Linked DNA regions of Homo sapiens: region 1 is linked to region 2. A link means that fine-mapping ties the variant in region 2 to the expression of a gene that starts in the linked region. Tissue or cell type: visceral fat. Region 2 holds a variant in brackets; the other region holds the start of a gene. All regions are shown on one strand. Distances are from middle to middle.

Region 1 (2,500 bases), 21 kb after region 2:
TGTGGGGCATGGAAACAGAAGGCTGGGGACACCCATTCTGGAGTAGCTTGGGGAGAGCCACTGACCCTAATTAGAAAAGCCACCTCTCTCCTTAGGGCCCTGTCTGTTTCTCTGGGGACAGGGTAGGACTACCTTATCCCTATGATGTGAGGTACTGCCAGTTGTTAATCAGTGTCTGTGGCTTCTCTAGGGGACAAGCCCTTCGGGTCAGTGGGCATGGGGTGGGCAGCGTGGGTTGGATTTTCTCCTCAGGACCTTTCCAGCCTTAGGATCATCCTCTAGCACTGAGTACTGCTGGAAGGGCAGGGAGTGCCCCCCACCCCACCCCATTTATTGCCCGACCAAAGAGAGGGCCTCCCTCCCCCTCCCTTGGAGGGACTTGCTGGACCACCCCTCAGCACGCCCACACCTTCCTCCTTAGCTAGTGAAAGACATACTCAGCAAGGCTTCCGCCTGTCAGGATGGCTGGGACAATAGGATTCACTGAGGATATAAGGCTGTTCCTAGCTTTTTCTCTTCCCATTCCCACCTGTGCCTCAGTTTTCCAAAGTGCTGGATTTAGAAAGGGTGAATTATGAGGGAGCTGGAGGGCTTTGCCCCACCCCCCTCCGCGCGCACACGCAAGCACAGGCAGAGGCACATACCCCCTCCAAGTCAAAGTTGTGAGTGGGGTGGTGTTTGCGCGTCTGTGGCTGGGACTGGATGTGTCAGGGATGGGAAAACCCATCATGCTGGTCACAGAAAATGCGCGGTGGGGACAGAAGCAGTTTTGAAGGAAAAGAAGAGGAGGGGGACTGAAAGAAAGAAGGGGGCGCTGAAAGGGAGGGCGCTGGGAGGAAAAAGGTGCAGTGTGGAGGAAGCGCGGCGTGGGCAGGGCTTGGGAAGGGATAACGGAATATCTGAGGTGGAGTGGGCCGTGGAGCGTCGGGGCCGGTCTGAGCAGCGGGTGTGTAAATGGAACAGTCCCGAGATGAATTTTATGGGAGTCTGCGCAGGTCCTTAATGTGTGGCTGTACCCTCCAGCCCCATGTACCCCACACGATGGACAGACAGCCTTGGTGTGGCAGGGCCCAAAGAGGTCCTATCTACCGCAATAACACGACCAGGCGGCCCTGGGGGCGCAGGGGCTCGGGGTGGGAGCGGCGGAGCGCGCGGAGTCGCCGCGGGGTGGCAGGGGTGGGCCGGGGGCGGGGCCGCGGGCGTCGGGGAGGTGGCAGTGGGCGCAGGGCGGGGCGAGCTCAGCGGAGGGCGGGTTTGAATGTGCCCCGGCGGGAGAGGGAAGCTGCAGCGAGAGCGCGCGGATCTCAGCGCGGGAGCAGTGCTTCTGCGGCAGGTGCTGCCCGGGGCCGGGGACTGGGGACTGGGGACTGCCGGGGCGGAAGACGCCGCTGCCCGCCTGCCACGGAGGGCAGGGAGGGCGGGCCTGACGGCTCCGCAGCCCGGAGAAGGGACGCCGGGTGGGGCCCCAGTGCGGAGCGTGCGGAGCCGCGCAGCACGTGGCGCGCACGGGCCAGGGAGCCTGAGGACCCTGCGGGGACCGGGACCCAAGCTGGGCGGGGCGGCCTGGCTCCCGGGCCTAAAACAGGCTGCGGTCACGTTGACCTCCGCAAGGGGCAGGCGAGTGGACGGGTGATCCCCATCGATCTGGTCGGTATCAGGGAGGGGCCGTGCCGCTGACTGCGCTGGCGGAGGGGTATGGGGATGGGGATGGGGATGGAGGCTCGCGAGCGGAGGTGCAGGCTCGCGAGCGGAGGTGCGGGGCTGTCTCTTTAACCCCGGTCTTTTACTGGCTAAACTCGTATCCCTGGCGTCTCCTTCCTGCGCACGTCTTCATTTACTGATTTACTGTGAGGGTATATGAGAGGGTGAAGACAAACAGTCCTCGGCTTTGCTTACCAGGAGAGAGCAGTCGTAGGTCAAGGCTGGCTCCAACCCTGCCCTCACACCTCTAGGGGTCTCTCTGCAGCCCTGTGGTAGTCCCTTTGCCTACTCCTCTCGGTGGCCTCCAGACCCTCCAACTTTCCTCCTGCTTGTGTAAGCTCCCCATGCCAGGATGTGTGTGATGGGGCGGGGCTGAGCTGCCTGACACTCAAGTCAGGCTGGGAATGATCTTGGTCTCCACCTCATTTTTCCCTTTAGTTGAATCAGAGTTCCCCCCACCTCCCAGTCTACAGGGCTAACTGAGAAGCAGCTTTTATACCTCTCTCCATTCCAAAAGGAGCTTGAACATTTAATATGGATTCTAGCTCCTCCACTCACCAGCTCTGTGACTTCAGGCAAGTGACTCAACCCCTCTGAACCTCAGCTGGCCCCATCTATTCAGTGCTAGTACTAGCTTATGGGTGGTTGTGAAGAAAAGACAAGAGATCTGCAGGTAGTGGCTAGCCCCATATGAAATCCTGGGAGTGGAGAATTGCAGGAGAGGTGTTGGGAGTCTGGAGGCAGGGAGGTACTCAATTTGGTGGCTACTTTCAGGGGCCCACCTCAGCAGGCCAAGGCA
Region 2 (2,756 bases):
TTGTCCCAGGCAGAAAGGCACTGTGATTATGACAGGGCTGAGCTCCCAGTTCCTGGGCTAGAACTCCGCCCATTCCCCACCCACACTGCCTATACCTGGCTGGCTCTGGTTCCTGGCCCCAAGGTCTCCCCACCTGCTCCTTGGTAACATCACCCCTTGACACACCCTGCCCTTGATGAGGCCTCCCTGGCTCCTTGTCAGAACTCCTTGTTTAGGGGTCAGAGCTGTCCTCAACCTCCCACAAACAGGAAGGGCCCCACACCAATGCTGATTTCCCAGAGGACAACAGGCCAGTGAAACATGACAGAGCGAGGGGCCACAGCCTCCGCAGGCCTCCCTTGATTCTTCAAGCATTAACAGAGCCCCAGCCTCTGATCTAAGTGCTGCCCATGAGCAGCAGGGTGCCTTGCATCAGGCCTCCAAGGAGCAGCAAGTTCTCTGCTGGCCTCTGACATAAGGGTGGAAGGAAGGAAACTAATATTTATGAGACACCTACCTGGTAGCCAAACTCTGAGCCTCACATTCTCCTCATCTCTTTATCTGGTCAGCTGTAGGTATTATTATAATTCCCATTTTAGGGAGGGGGACCACCCCATAGCACAGCTCCGGAAGGTGCCACTCTCAACTCCCGCTGTGCAATATACAGCCTGCTCTGGCATCCAGAGGGGCCCTGAGAGAGGGTCCCAGAGCCAGCATGTGGTTCCAGAGCGACCAACTCAGAAGCACCTCCAGCCAACTTCACGAGCTGGGACCCAGACACATGTTTTTAATGCAAGTCATGCGGAGGCAGTGGCCTGTCGCAGCATGCTCTTGAGCGCCTGGGTGGAGACATGCAGAAGGGGTGGGAAGAGCAGGACTCTCGGTGCCCGTGGGTCTGGCAAGAACCCATTAGCTCTAGTGCAACTCTTGCTATCATTCCTGCTTTCCCCATCTGCTGTCTGTCACTCTGGTGGCTCTTGGTGTGTCTGTCCTCTTCACCATTGACCCAGAGCCTTGCACGGGCTTTCACACAGTTGGCACACAATGTATGTTGTCATGTCTGGCCCGATTAACTGATGCCTGTGTATGGGCATCATCCAGAATGTTTCTGGATGGCCCTGGGCATCTGGGGAGTGGACCACAAAGGCAGATCCCAGGGGCCACTTAGTGCCAGCCCACAGTCCTCACCTTCACAGGTTGGTATCCAGATACTATTTTTTTTTTTTTTCAATTGACCTTAAGGAAACAGGAGATTTGGTCAGTTTCCTCAAAGTTGCCTGCAGAGCATGGGAGGCAGAGGTCAGGGAAGT[G/A]CAGGAAGGATCCATGACACAAGGCTAAACTGGGAACTGGAAGAAACTGCTCCCTGGCGGCTTTGTTCCTGACGAAGATGGTTATTTTTCCAGGAATGCTGAGGAAATCCACAGCAGCTTTAGTGTTCCCGCCTTGGAGAAAATGTCTGGGGCAGGCAAGGGAGGTGGGGTGGAGCTAATGGAAGTGAGGATGGGAAGGTGGTGGAGAGGGCAGTTAATCCCAGGAAGAGTCAGGGGTTAGAGAGTAAACTAAGACTAGATCCATTCCTTGGAGCCAGCCACTGCCCCTCCCCCACCTCCCTGCCCAAACCCCTCTGGAGTTCCCCATTGTTCCCAGAGACAATAGCTAGTTTCCTTTACCTGCCTCATCATCCCAGGCCCAGGAATCTCTCACTCTGTTTACAAGAGGCAGCGGTGGGGTAGGAGTATCTGGGCCTTACCCCAGGGTCCAAGGATCTCACCGCTGGAAGATCCCACAGCTATGGAAACTGAGGCTGGGAGGAGTGGGATGTGACTTAGCCAAGGTCACAGCAACCACAGATGTGGGCCAGTGCTTGGTGGGGCCTCCACGGTTCCCCGTGGAGTACGCACTTTGGTGGTTCTCAGAGGGAGCCATCAGGGCCTGCCGTTCCTCCCCTCGAGACTCTCTCCAGCTGTCTGTGCAGCCCAGGGGTTCTCACACACATCCTGGGAGTGTGTTTAGATCAGTGGAGCCCTGGAACCCAGCTGCACAGACTCTGGGGCAAGCAAACCTGGGTTTGGATCCTGCCACAGAACCTTCATTTATTTGTTCCGTAAACCAAAAAAAAAGTGTGTGAGACAGATCTCCGTCAACTTAGCGGTTTATTTTGCCAAGGTTGACGATAAGCCTGGGAAAAAGAGACAAAAGTTACAGAAGGCTCTGTGGCCTGTCCTTTTTCCAAAGACAGTTTCAGGATTTCCATTCTTAAAGGGGAAAGAGCAGCAGGAGGGAAAAGAGGAACAGTCCATTACTGGTGAGATTCAACAGAACTTGGCCTTAGGGTGAGGACTTTGGAGCCCACAAGGAATTCCTCCTGAGCAATTTGTGAGAAAGGTCACCTGGGGAAATATGCGGCCTTCCATTGCTGCAGCTGTCTGTTTAGGAACCAAAATAAGGCAGTTTTTGTGTGACTCAGTTCCCAAGCTTAACTTTTCCCTTTGTGAGTTTGGGGTCTCTTTTCCTTTCACATTTCTTACAACAATTTTTACTAGTATTTATTGCCAAGCACTGGGCCACAACAAAATTGTTCCTACTCTCAAGTCCCTTCTCTCAAGGAACTTATGTTTTATTTCTTTATTTTTATTTATTTATTTATTTTTGAGACAGAGTCTCGCTCTGTCACCCAGGCTGGAGTGCAGTGGCATGATCTTGGCACACTGCAACCTCTGCCTCCCGGGTTCAAGAGATTCTTCTGCCTCAGCCTCCTGAGTAGCTGGGATTACAGG

Evidence for each region. PIP is the estimated chance that this variant, and not a neighbour inherited with it, causes the effect.
Region 1: SLC29A1 starts here. The variant in region 2 is fine-mapped to the expression of SLC29A1 in visceral fat (GTEx, PIP above 0.99). The same link has a PIP of 0.9 or more in subcutaneous fat.

Annotation. Positions count from the first base shown.
Region 1 is chr6:44,222,309-44,224,808 of GRCh38, forward strand. It overlaps SLC29A1 (solute carrier family 29 member 1 (Augustine blood group)), which reads left to right and starts at 1,287. Exons shown (of 13, transcript NM_001372327.1): 1 at 1,287-1,333. RefSeq lists enhancers at 1,116-1,974, 2,217-2,366 and a silencer at 1,127-1,526.
Region 2 is chr6:44,201,236-44,203,991 of GRCh38, forward strand. It overlaps a transcript of MYMX not described here. Among named protein-coding and RNA genes, the nearest start is that of MYMX, 14 kb to the right of the region's middle. RefSeq lists enhancers at 1-318, 319-1,318, 1,319-2,319, 2,320-2,756. The variant G/A (reference allele first, on the strand shown) is at 1,290.